4 separate regions of the Homo sapiens genome follow, and regions 2, 3 and 4 are each reported to be linked to region 1. The links are microRNA targets in miRTarBase. Many come from high-throughput screens and were not tested one by one. Region 1 holds a microRNA gene; each other region holds the end of a gene's coding sequence.
Evidence for each region. Region 1 holds the annotated microRNA hsa-miR-3613-3p (ACAAAAAAAAAAGCCCAACCCUUC, at 1,210-1,233, opposite strand). A microRNA usually pairs through its seed, bases 2 to 8, with sites in the 3' UTR of a target mRNA and lowers its output. Matches are read on the target gene's strand: a 7mer-m8 pairs with bases 2 to 8, a 7mer-A1 pairs with bases 2 to 7 and ends in A, and an 8mer does both.

Region 2: the mRNA of PNO1 is a reported target of hsa-miR-3613-3p. Seed matches in the 3' UTR shown: 7mer-m8 at 1,024-1,030, 7mer-m8 at 1,033-1,039 and 7mer-A1 at 1,557-1,563.
Region 3: the mRNA of KCNMB3 is a reported target of hsa-miR-3613-3p. The part of its 3' UTR that is shown has no 7-base or 8-base seed match.
Region 4: the mRNA of CBX3 is a reported target of hsa-miR-3613-3p. Seed matches in the 3' UTR shown: 7mer-m8 at 2,448-2,454, 7mer-m8 at 2,232-2,238 and 7mer-m8 at 2,171-2,177.

Annotation. Positions count from the first base shown.
Region 1 is chr13:49,995,217-49,998,333 of GRCh38, forward strand. It overlaps MIR3613 (microRNA 3613), which reads right to left and starts at 1,285; the gene lies at 1,199-1,285. It overlaps TRIM13 (tripartite motif containing 13), which reads left to right and starts at 1,826. Exons shown (of 2, transcript NM_213590.3): 1 at 1,826-2,547. It overlaps DLEU2 (deleted in lymphocytic leukemia 2), which reads right to left. Exons shown (of 14, transcript NR_152566.1): 11 at 1,858-2,203. RefSeq lists silencers at 793-842, 1,433-1,562 and an enhancer at 1,123-1,252.
Region 2 is chr2:68,174,404-68,177,520 of GRCh38, forward strand. PNO1 (partner of NOB1 homolog) reads left to right here. Exons shown (of 7, transcript NM_020143.4): 7 at 332-1,835. The coding sequence ends at 399. Among named protein-coding and RNA genes, the nearest start is that of PNO1, 18 kb to the left of the region's middle. RefSeq lists an enhancer at 1,215-1,384.
Region 3 is chr3:179,240,177-179,243,293 of GRCh38, forward strand. KCNMB3 (potassium calcium-activated channel subfamily M regulatory beta subunit 3) reads right to left here. Exons shown (of 3, transcript NM_171830.2): 3 at 2,595-3,108. The coding sequence ends at 2,728. Among named protein-coding and RNA genes, the nearest start is that of KCNMB3, 9.4 kb to the right of the region's middle.
Region 4 is chr7:26,211,699-26,214,815 of GRCh38, reverse strand. CBX3 (chromobox 3) reads right to left here. Exons shown (of 6, transcript NM_016587.4): 5 at 3,060-3,117; 6 at 1,209-2,734. The coding sequence ends at 2,608. Among named protein-coding and RNA genes, the nearest start is that of CBX3, 12 kb to the right of the region's middle.

The DNA of each region.
Region 1 (3,117 bases):
CTCAGCCTCTCAAGTAGCTGGGACTACAGGCATACGGCACCATGACCGGCTAATTTTTGTATTTTTAGTAGAGACCAGGTTTCACCATGTTGGTCAGTCCGGTCTGGAACTCCTGACCTCAGGTGATCTGCCCGCCTCGACCTCCCAAAGTGCTGGGATTACAGGCGTGAGCCACCGTGCCTGGCCTAAAAACACTAAATTTAGTAAGGTACTGGGGTGCAGTTTTGTCACTGACAGTTATGGTGCTGTAGAAAGAGCCCATATCTGGAAGCTGCCTTTAGCCTCAGCTCTGCCTCTTGCTTTTGTACCTTGGAAAAGTCACTTCACCTGTTTTCTCATCTATATAGGATGAAGATCATAATTTCTTTTACACAGTGTTATGAGACTGAATGACAGAAATTAAAAGAAGTGTTCTACGAAGGCAAAGTTAGGTTTCTTATAGCAGGAAGGGAGATGCACACAGAGAAGTGGGAATCTCAGGAGACGGATGTGGCCAGGGGCTTTTTACGGGGGTTGGGCTAAGCATTATTAGTCAACGGGCTGTACTGCTATTTATGGTAGGTTTTGAATACCGTTTCTCCAAAATAACCTATTTCCTCCCCAAACCCAAACTTCCTCAACTGGGATCGAACTCAATCCTACAGCGTGTTCTGAGATTCTATACTCGCCTCACTTCTCCCAAGATCGTAAATTCTGGAGGAGCCATTCCTTCATCATCCATGTTTGCATCCTTCACACCGTTCACTGGTTAAGTGCTTAGTACGTTTGCTATTGGGCAAGGTCCTCAAACGGGAGGTGGACGTCAGAATAGTCAGGTTATCGACTGAGTAACTGTTAGTGGTGGATAATTTAAAGCCAATTTGAAAGTTCATCCTTTCCCCCAAAGGCAAAAACAGGCGTTCCTTTTCTTAAAAGAGAATTTTAAATAGAATTGGGTCTCTGGTGTCCTGCCTAAAGCCCGCAAAGAAAGAGGGTACGGTTGGGGGTGGGGGTGATGGGGGATACTGAACCCTTTTCTGGTTGCGCCTTGCCCGGAGCCCCCGGCTAGAGCCCTGGCGCTCCTGGCGCGCTCCCAACGCGAATCGGTGACTCCGCAGGCCGCGCAGTGCGGAGGTGCCCGTCCCACCCTCCCCCTTGTGGGGTGCGGGGCTCCATTTCCCCAAGCCGCTGGGGTCGGCTTCTGGTCTTGAGATGCGGATGAAGTGGTGTGAAGGGTTGGGCTTTTTTTTTTGTTCCTAAAAATGCAACGAACAAAAAAAAAAGTACAACAATCCAAACCCAACCATCTTAATTGCACGGCAGCTTAACTGGGAGACTTTCTTCCCGGGCGGCCCCACCCGGGACCGCGCCGCTTCAGTCGAGCCCACCGTCTGGGCAAACGGCGTCCACTTCCCGGAGCCGCTGCCCAGCCTCTGCGGGGGGGCTTTGGGCGGGCGCAGGACTCTGGAAGGGAGAAAAGCCCGCAGCCCGGCCCTCCCCGTCCCAGGCGGCCCGCGCGGGTGGACGGCGGGAGCAGGCGGCGGTTGGAGACGCCGGAAGGAACGCGGTCTCACCACCCGGCTCCCTCCGCCAAGGCGAGGCGCGGCCGGGGAGGCGGGACACAGGCGAAGCGGGACGGGGAGGCGGGGCCGGAGGTGCAGGCGGAGGCGGGCGACGGGGAAGGGAGGGGGAGGGGGAGGGGAAAGGGAGGGGGAGGGGGAGGGGAAAGGGAGGGGGAGGGGGGAAGGGACGGGAGGGGAGGGGGAAGGGACGGGAGGGGAGGGGGAAGGGACGGGAGGGGAAGGGGAAGCGGGAGAGGGAAGGGGGCGGAGCTAGCCGGAGCCGCGAGTCCATTTTGGGGCTGTGCTTGGCGCGTACCGTGCGGTCCCTGTAGTTGGAGGACGGGCGGTCGCGCGGCCTTTCCCACTAGCCGGAGGTCGGAGATAAGTACCCGCCGCCCGGCTCCTCTCGGGAAAGCGGGGTGGTCCTCGAACCTTCAGCGAGGGTGGGGAGTTGCCCAGGTCAGCAGGGATCTGCGTGGGTTGGGGGGGCTGGCGAAGGCCGTCTGAGCTCCAGTCCGGCAGCGCGGCAGAAACCAGCGGGGCACTGTCATGGGCCTGGGGAGGAGCGGCCTGCGGAGGGCGCCGGGGCAGTGTGTCTGTGGTCCAGAAAACCTGCTCCGTCCGGAGCCTTCCTGGCCCCGCTACCAGCGTCTCCACATCCCCTAGAAAAGAAAAGACGGGTGTGGGCCTTAGGTTACAGCGCGCCGCCAGCGTTTGGTTGCATGGCGCCGGGGGAGGGCGCCCTAACCGAGAAGCTGCTTAATACAAAGAGCTCCAGGCTCCTGGCGGTTCACCAGGTCTAAACAGCCGGGCTTTATTTGTGGGGGCGATTGAAAAAATTGAGGGTCAAGATTGGGGTGCTGTGCAAATAAATGCGTTAATACTGTTCTTTTTCTTCTTTCTTTGCAGTAGCCTCTAGTTCGTTAGTCAAAACGTGAAAAAAAAGACCTGCTTTGCCCTGGGAAATAGTAACCCTGCCAAATACATCAGCTTGTAGGAGACAGAGGTAAACTACAATAATTTTCCTGTGTTATCTTTTTTTTTTAAACACCCAATTTCAATAGGCCCTAGAACCTTCCAAAATGGAACTGTGTGTAGAATACGTATGTTCCCATCCACTTTCATTGGTGGTCTTTGTTCTTTGCATATTTTGTTAAAACTTAGAAAAACAGAATTCACGTTTAGCAATTATTTATGTGGTATTTATCTTAAATATAGCCAAACATTCATATTACAAAGGAAGAAAGGGGCTTCCACACTTTTTTCCTACTTTTTTTTCCCTTCTCCTATGCTTAGTGAATTGTCAGGCTGCTAGGGCTTGTAGAACAGGGCTTGAGTTTTCTAGAGACCTTTATATAATAGGCACTTTAAAAGCAGAATTTCATTTACATAGGCACTCCTTCTAGTAGAACTTGATGGAGCTGTTAACCGGCTATACTTCCTTCTTGCACAATGGGAGCGTCCCTATCCCTCCCTAAAAATACGTTTTTTTTCCTTTCTCCCAGCTGGCTTACTAAACCTCCCTGGGAAGTCCTTTCCTAAAACCGGGCTGTTCTGTTCATTCTATACATTTATG
Region 2 (3,117 bases), not on the chromosome of region 1:
GATCGAACCAATGGCAGATCAAATACTCAGAAAAAAAATATATAAAAATAATGGCAAATTAAAAATAATACAAATTTTAAAACACAATACAGTACTATTTACATAGCATTTGCATTGTATTAGGTATTATAAGTAATCTAGAGATGATTTAAAGTATATGGGAGGATGTGGGTAGTTAATGTGCATATTTTTTATGTAAGAGACTTGAGCATCCAAGGATTGTGGTGTCTGTGGGAGTCCTGAAACCAGTCTTCCTTAGACACTGAGGGACAACTGTAGGCGCTATAAATGTGAGTTTATTTGTGTATATACTTTTTTTTCCCCTTTGCAGGAAATCCTCCTTCCAAGGTTTATGGCAATATTCGAGCTGTGGCTAGCAGATCAGCAGATCGATTCTGATTTCAAGTCAGAGACTTTTTATCTTGCCTTTGGACTCTGGTGAAAAATACTTTACAGTGGTCGGTCACAAGAAACCAGCTGAACAATTTCAGTCATTTGAAGCCTCCGTCCCTTCTTCCATTCTCAGCCAGAAGCATAAACAGAAAAGAAAGATTTAAGAGGATTCACACTCAACAGGTTTTAGGATAATTTAAATATCAAAAATTGATTGTTATACTTAACACATTAGGTATAATTTATCATTTATCTGAAATCACATGTAGCAGATTGCATAGTCTGTAATCCTCTCAGAGGGAAACTTCTTGTTTAAACAGCTCTATATGGATTTATACTTTTATATTTATAAATTTATAACTTCATACAAATTTATAAACATTTCTTTATAAATTGTAATTTAATAGATTATCTCAGAAAAACCTCTCTGAATGATGACCCTTCCTTAATACTGGGTGATGTGTGAATATTTGTTTGTTGGCAGACAGGGTCTCACTTTGTCACCCAGGCTAGAGTGCAGTGGTGCAATCTCAGCTCACTGCAGCCTCTGCCTCCTGAGTTCAAGTGATCCTCCTGCTTCAGCCTCCCTAGTAGCTGGGACTACAGGTATGCACCACCATGCCTGGCTAATTTTTTGTATTTTTTGTAGAGATGGGGTTTCGCCATGTTGACCAGGCTGGTCTTGAACTCCTGGCCTCAAGGGATCCGTCCGCCTCAGCCTCCCAAAGTGCTGGGATTACAGGCATAAGCCACTGCGCCTGGCCTTGATGTGTGAATATTTGAGAGGTCATAAGCAGTGGTTTTGGCCATACCGTATTATACCATATACATCAGTAAGAGCTCATCTTGGAACCTGTTTTGCAGTTTCTTGCAGTTTCAAAAATTAAAGACCTACATCACAGGGTTAATGTGAAGAAAGCTTTATTTTTCAAATGAGTATTTAATGAAAGTATACATAACCAATGTTGGGTATACAGATGCTTCTCAACTTATGATGGGTTTAGGTCCAGATAAGCCCACTGTGAGTTGAAAATACCAAAAGTCAAACATCATAGCTTAGCCTACCTTAAAAGGGCTCCGAACACTACATTAGCCTACAGTTGGGCAAAATCGTCTAATACAAAGCCTATTTTATAATAAAGTATGTTGAATATCTCATGTAATTTTTGAAGATTACATTGAAAGTGAAAAACAGAATGGTTGGGTACTTGAAATACAGCTTCTACTGAATGAATAATTCTAAAGTTGAAAAATAATAGTAAGAACCATCATAAGTCTGTTTCTTCTAGTAAAGGTGAAATGATGAAAGAATGCTTTTTTCCCACCCAAAAAACTATGCTCTATAAATGCAGATTAGCTAGTTTCTGCCTGTTTAAATGGTATTATTTTATACATTACAAAATGGAAGGAACTTACTTTATTAAACTTAACTTTGATACTTCTCTTATGCATCTCTAAAACCCTTGATGAAAACATGTAAACTTCAGTAATGGCAGTATTAGAAAGTTCATGTAGGAACTAAAAGAAAAATTGTTAAGCTTGTTTCCTTTATATCATCAGTTACATATCCCACTGTTCTAAGCTAGTTTGTACAGTATGTGGGATCGGATATACTTAGATATTTTTAAAAATTTCATTCATTAATGCTTTTTTTGCAAAATACTCAACTGGGAATCCAACTGGAAATTGCTGAGTATGTCCCACCTCAAATTATTTTTTTATCCTTTGGCAACAGCAGCATGGAGCAAGGATATGTACAATGATATCAGATCCTTTTACTCATACCTTTTTGAAAAAGATTTGGGACTTTTTTATTCTGGAGTCTGTACAGGTTTTCAGAGGTACTTGCCTACCTTCATCCTTTCCCCAGGAAGTTAAATTCAAAATTGTGACTATTTCATTTACTTTCCTGGGGAATGGGCCCATGCCTGTAATCAGGTTTTCCAAGCACTTGGACTGAATTGAACCATTGCTAGGTGACCATAAATGTTTTGAATCGACTTTCAAGGAATGGAGGAGGCAGGAAGTTAAAAGCATCATTTCAACTGCGAAAATATGGGTTATCTGTATTAAAGGGAAATAACGTTTTGGTATTATCCAAATTACTTCCCCTTTTGAAGATTTCCTATGTAATTACAACTGTCAGTAATACAAGAGAGCAAATATATTTCCCTGGCAGCTGCTAAAATTTGGAATGCTGAACGTTGGTTTAAGGAGTTGCTTTCACCTCCTCCCCACCCCCGCCCGCCGCTTAGTTAAGCGTTTGTATCTCCTGTTCCCCAGTAGTAGTAGTAGTACTACTTGGGGCTTTTGAAAGGGAGAGAAAATGTTAGGGGAACCCAATTAATAATCCTTGGGATGGGAAAGTATGAAGAAGGAATAGAGGTAATAAATTTGACTATCATACTGGCAGTTGATCTTAACCTGGGTCAAATAACTTCATTAAACCCTTCTCTAAGGCCAAGACACTAAATCTAATACTTCCAACCTTACCTGTTTCTATGGCGCTTGTCACTCTATATTGTAATTATTGTGTCTGCCTGCCACCCTAAGGCTTATATTTTGGATACTCAGTATCTGGTACGATTTTCTGACATACACTTTACATATGTATTCACTGATACATTGCCTGGGAGATGGGCCTGAGAGAAGAGCATTTTCTTAGGTATTCGTGGCTGGCAAGAGACCCATGGAGTTTCCTCCTAGTCACTCGCTCCTGAAGAG
Region 3 (3,117 bases), not on the chromosome of region 1:
AGCCGGTGTTGCTAATAATCAAAATTTAGCTGAATTTGAGTTCTTTTCAGTAATGACTAAGAATACTTGATTGAAAATCTGAAACTATTATACCTTAAAAGCCAATTTTTCTACCCCAGTAAAGTGATGAATATTAAAGGAATGTATGTTTAAATATTTACTTCCTTTAAGCATAAAGAATTATATGCTTGTATTTTAAGAAATATATGTATATACATATATGTATGAATGTATGTATGTATATGCAATAGGTAAGTAGACTTTTTTCCAAGTCGTTTGAAGATCAGAACCTAGAAATGAAGTTAGGCTAGAAGCAAACTGGTTTTGCTTTCAGTTCTCATAAACATTGCAAAAGGTAAGTGTGGGCTTTTCTTTGACCATTAATGCACATAGGCATTAACAACTTAGTATTTCTGAGCAATTAAGCAAATAATTACTTAAATTTTATTTATTTGCCAAATGGTTTAAATAATTTTGAATTGACTTTGTTCTCCAGGGATAATCTCTCTCTTTGCTGGAATGAATCAGGTAGCTCCTATCTAAATGGAAAACTGTGGTAATTGAAACACACGCTTTATATTTTAAATTAGCAGTTTTGAATTTGTTAGGGAAAAAAAAAATCCCAGCAACTGCATATTGTTAGGTAGAAGTCAAATTTACAAAAACGGAATAGAGATGTGCCCTTGAGAAAAGTGTAGAATCTCAATGTGCAGATGATTTAAAATGTGCGTGCACATCAAATGTTCATGTGTACTTACATACTTTATTACAGAGAAGTCTTTGGTATACAAAATAGTTTACCACAACCTTTTAAACAGCAGGTTCTGGGCCTTAAATGCGTATCACATTTAGCCAAGAGAACTCAGGTAGGGGCATGGAAAATGAACTGCAGCTCCCTATCCCTAGCCTCTATACCAGCTGTCCAGTGAAAAGTACCAAGGCTCACTGAATGTTATAACCTAGCAGATTTTTAAATAAATGATCTAACATTTTTGAGCACTGCTACTAGATGCTAGAAGCTAAGCTAAAGTTTCACCTGCCCTACTTTGCTTATTCCATAAAATAACAACTGCGTGAAAGAACGGGTTATCCCCATTTTATAGATGAGAAAAGAAAGGTTTACACAGGTTAGCTTATTTGCCCAAAGTTGTAATTATGGCCTACAAAGTCAAATAAATCCTACTCTGAGACACATGTTCTTTCCACCATTGCACACTAGAAAGGAAAACACCAAGATTATTCATTACTCATCAAGTCAATATTGCTGTATTCAGCTAATTTAGTAATATGTGTCGAAATTAATTGCTAAAAGGGATTAAACTGACTTAGAATCAGTTTTTTGTTTGATTACATCTACATACAAAAGTAGCTTCAAATGTCTCATTCCACTGTCCATAATTTAAGATTTTTGAGTATAATAAAATTTTAAAGATACTTTGAGGCACTTTGGAAAATCAGACCAAAATCTCTTTTCCACTCATAGATTCGGCTTAATCAACCTGGAAAGCATTTGTTGAGAGCCTTATGACATCATTTAATAACCATGGTTGATTCATTAATTAAAGTACAGACAATTGTTGACTATCCATGTGGGACTTCTTTTCTATTAGGTTGATGCAAAAATAATTGCGGTTTTTCGCCATTAAAAGTTAACAGCAAAAACTGGAATTACTTTTGCACCAGCCTAATACGATGTGGATCATCTGAGATGAATGTTAAAATCCAGTATAGCTTCTTCATATTTCTGGCCCATTTTTCCCACCAGAAAGTGCACAAAGTGAAATGAGCTTATGAAAAGCTTAATTAACTAGAAAAATGTTACTGAAAGAAAAATTACATGGTACATGACAAGGCTAAATACTAGTAACTCTAAACTTAGTGAATTTTCTAGGCAGCAGCTTTCCTCTGCTGTCTAGACTGGTAAAGAACAAACTAAAGCCAAGCGCAGTGGCTCATGCCTGTATTCCCAGCACTTTGGGAGGCCAAGGCGGGCAAATCACCTGAGGTCAGGAGCTCAAGACCAGCCTGACCAACATGGTGAAACCCTGTCTACACTAAAAATACAAAAATTAGCTGGGCGTGGTGGTGCACACCTGTAATCCCAGCTACTTAGGAAGCTGAAGCAAGAGAATTGCTTGAACCCAGGAGGCAGAGGTCACAGTGAGCCAAGACTGTGCCACTGTGCTCCAGCCTGGGCGACGAGCAAAACTCCATCTCAAAAAGGAAAAAAAAAAAAAACTATAATAAATATGTTAGCTCCATGTTTTCTTAAGTTTTCTACCAGATTTTTGTCTTTGTATAGTGAACAAACTGTTAAGAACTTTTTTATGAGAAATATTTTAGTATGACTATATTGCATAGAGTTAGGCTGATGGTTCAGTGTTCAGTAGATTAGATACCCTCATTGTTTATTTCCATATTGACTGGTTCTAGCTAGAGCTGAAATTAGGCAAAGAATATCTTGAACTCATTTTGCTATACAGGAAAAAAAACAGTGCTTCCTTAGCTCATTTGGAAAGAGATTGGGATTAGAAAAGATGGTGAATTTGTATGTATTTATAGAAATAAATAGAATACAAAATGAGGCTTTTAAATTTTTTCCCACATGAAAATATGATACTTTAATTATTACCTTTTACATTATTAGTTTGCAGACAGGCATAATTAGGTCCTCAGTTGCAGAAATCACAGACATCTGAAGGCCAGCACTTTAATTTGGCCACCGTCTTAAGATTTCTCTGCTCTTCCTTTGCTCCTCCTCATAATGCACAGTTTGAACTGATGCTGTTCTATATAAGGTACTTTTCCACCTACCTCATCTCTGACTACAGTGCTATATTTTTCACACAGTAAGGACAGGTGTTGTGTTAATCTCACCATGCCAACAATCAGGGCACCACCTAGCAGAGTCAGTGAAGGCCAAAATAAACAGTGGAAGATAGCCATTTGGTCATACTTTTTTATAAGAATGACATCTTCAGATTGGCTGGCTGGACTGTAGAAGCATGAAAAGGGGGTTCCATTTTTGTGATCGAAGAATTCTTTTATGTCCAGAGCACTGTTGAGCAAATCATTTCTATCTTGGTGGCACTTAGGTGTGTAAAAGCACTAGGAATA
Region 4 (3,117 bases), not on the chromosome of region 1:
CTGCCTCAGCCTCCACAGCAGCTGAGATTACAGGAACACACCCCCATGCCTGGCTAATTTTTGTATTTTTAGTAGAGAGGGGGTTTTGTTATGTTGGCCAGGCTGGTCTTGAAATCCAGAGATATGGGTATCAATTGAACTTCGGGTTTGAAGCAAGGAAATTGATGAGGTGGCCTTACTTCTGTAGCATCTGAGTTGTTACAAGAAGCCTATTACATAAACATCAGAGGGTAGAAATGATAGAAAAAGGGTTTTCTCTTCAGCTAAAGATCTAAGCTCCAGGAATTCAAGAATTTGAATGAATGGTTTGGCTCAATCCTTCCATAATACACCGTGGTAGACAGGAGAGATGGAAAGAGGAAGAGAGGAAGGGCGAGAAAGATGATGCAAGATGCTCCACTGCTTGCTGATTCTGAAGATGGAAAGGGCCAGGAACCAAAGAATATACGTGGCCTTTTGAAATGGAAGAGAGAAGGAAAGATTCTGCCATCAAAGCCTCCAGAAGGAATTCCCCTGATAACCTGACTTCAGCTTGCTTAATTTTGGACTTCTGACCTACAGAACTATTTTCAGCCATAAATGGGTTAAATTTGTGGTAATTTGTTAAAGCACCAATAAGAAACTAATACAAACACTAGAGAATATAAAAAAACAATATTTTTCAAATTTTTTGAGAAACAGTCTGTCATCCAGGCTGGAGCACAGTGGTATTGACATAGAGCTCACTGTAACCTTAAACTCCTAGGCTTAAGGGACCTTCCCAAGTAGCAAGGACTACAGGTGCAAGCCACCACACCCAGCTAATTTTAAAATTTCTTGTAGAGGTGGGGGTCTCACTGTTGCCCGGGCTGATCTCAAACTTCTGGGATTCAAGTAATCTTCCTGCGTTGGCCTCCCCAAATTTTGGGATTACAGGTGTGTGCCACCATGCATGGCCAAAGGACAATATATTGTTTTCAGAAATGCCCTTAGTAAAATTGAATGTAGGGCCACCAACTACTAATATGAATAGAAGGTTCTCTATCATCTGTGAACCCACCGCTGAGAGCAGTGGTGGGTATATATATATATATATAAGGAGGTACTTAATAAACATCAGTTATTTACCTTTTTCTGTATGGATTTTGGAAATCAATTAAAATGTGTCTATCATCACACTGAGCCCTATCAGAATACTTTACATTCTTTAGAAGACAGTTACAACAAACCAGAATTTAAAACCTCATTTTAATGAGACAATTGACCCTAGGCATCACATGAAACTTTTATTTCCCAACTGTGGAAACATTCCTGTGGAAATACATATTCAAGTTTAAAACTCGTAAGCTCAAAAGATCTAGGATATGTACTGTAATGCCTTACTGGTATCATCTAACTTATAAACAAAGATAATCCAATGAGTGTGGGCATTTCTATTTCTACTGTAAAGGCATATCAAATAAAGAAAAAAGTCTAATAATTGCATAAAGGAATATAAAACTATTTATTAACCACTGTTCACCAGTATTTACAATAAAGTAAACAATATACAGTTGGATAACATTTTGATTACTACAAAGTTGTTCTTCCTGGCTTTTGCTGAACCAGTAAAGCAAACTCAAGATTGAGCCTCCATGTAATGAATTGGGGTAAAGAAAAAACATGCAGGTCAATAGGTTAGGTTACAAAAGGTTGTTCACACATTTATGACAGCAGGTCCTAAACTGCCAACACCTCTAACCATCTGATTAGGTTTCTATGAGCCAAGTCTTACATATTCCATTCATCATGACCTTTTAGTCAATGTAGCAACAGGGATTCCAACATTTTGCTAAGGAATGGCCCGCTAGGGAAACTTTTAAATGTTCATTTAACTTAGTTTTGTTTAGCTAGTTAAAACACACTAGCATTTGTCTAGTTTCCTCATCTGGATGAGGAAACCTGCTGTGATGGCAGTGATAAAATTTTTCCTTTTAGGAATTTTGCAAATAAACCACTGCAATTATAGACACTTTAAAATTATCCAATTTAAATTGTCCTATCTAGAATTACTTATTTCACTTGAAATGTATGGTTTCAGGAAAATTTTCAATTTAACTTGAAGGGATTATCTCTTATTTTGCTTGGAATAATGGCATCTCAGAAACATGGGTTTACCTGTGATTTTTTTGTTTGGGTGAATGCTTAAAAACAAAAAAAAATTTACATATGCATTTTATGGATACACACACACACACACACACACACACACACAAAAAACACGTAATAAATCTAGAATGGTCCTTAGGCTCATGAGAACACAAGTTTTGACTGAGTAATGACTATGGACATTTCCCCCAACATTTAGAAAAGCTGTTCTTTAATGAAGAGGAAATGATATACCATGGTATCAAATGTTCTTTTCTGATAAAGGAAGCAACTACAGAAAGCTTTTATTTATTTGTTCAAAGTAACCAGTGCTATGGATGCAAAAAACCCCCAACAACTCTTCCAACGCTACTTTCAAAACAAACATATCAAACTTGATTTTCATTAGGATGTAGTTATTTTGTCACACTAGTAAATCAAAATCTAAGACCCAATTTTTATATATATATATAAATATATATAAAAGAACAATGTGAACAATTATTGAGCTTCATCTTCTGGACAAGAATGCCAAGTTAGTCTCTCTTCATAAAAAGCAATTACAATTTGAGGACACTTCATATTTGCCTCTTTCGCCAGCACCAAGTCTGCCTCATCTGAATCTTTCCTGTTTTAAGAAAAAGAAAAATTCAGTTACAAGTCGAAGTTGTTCATGTCAACCGACAGCCATTCATTTAAGAAATAATAGTCCAAACAAAAGGTATTGAAGTGCTCCAGGAGAGTTATGTTACTTGTTGCTATGTTCTAATAAACTTCATTTTCAAAACAGGCCACAGTTTGCTGACCCTTGCTTTAAAACACTACTAGTAAAAGTAACCAGAATCATCCTCTCAGCAGATAGTTTTTCCCTACCTAATGATGAAAAACCATTTCACAAATTAAAAAAAAAAAGCTACTCTTACTTTCAAATGTAACAATCTCTGCATACTCACCATTTCATGAGAAACATCAATTCTCCACTGCTGTCTGTGGCACCAATTATTCTTTCAG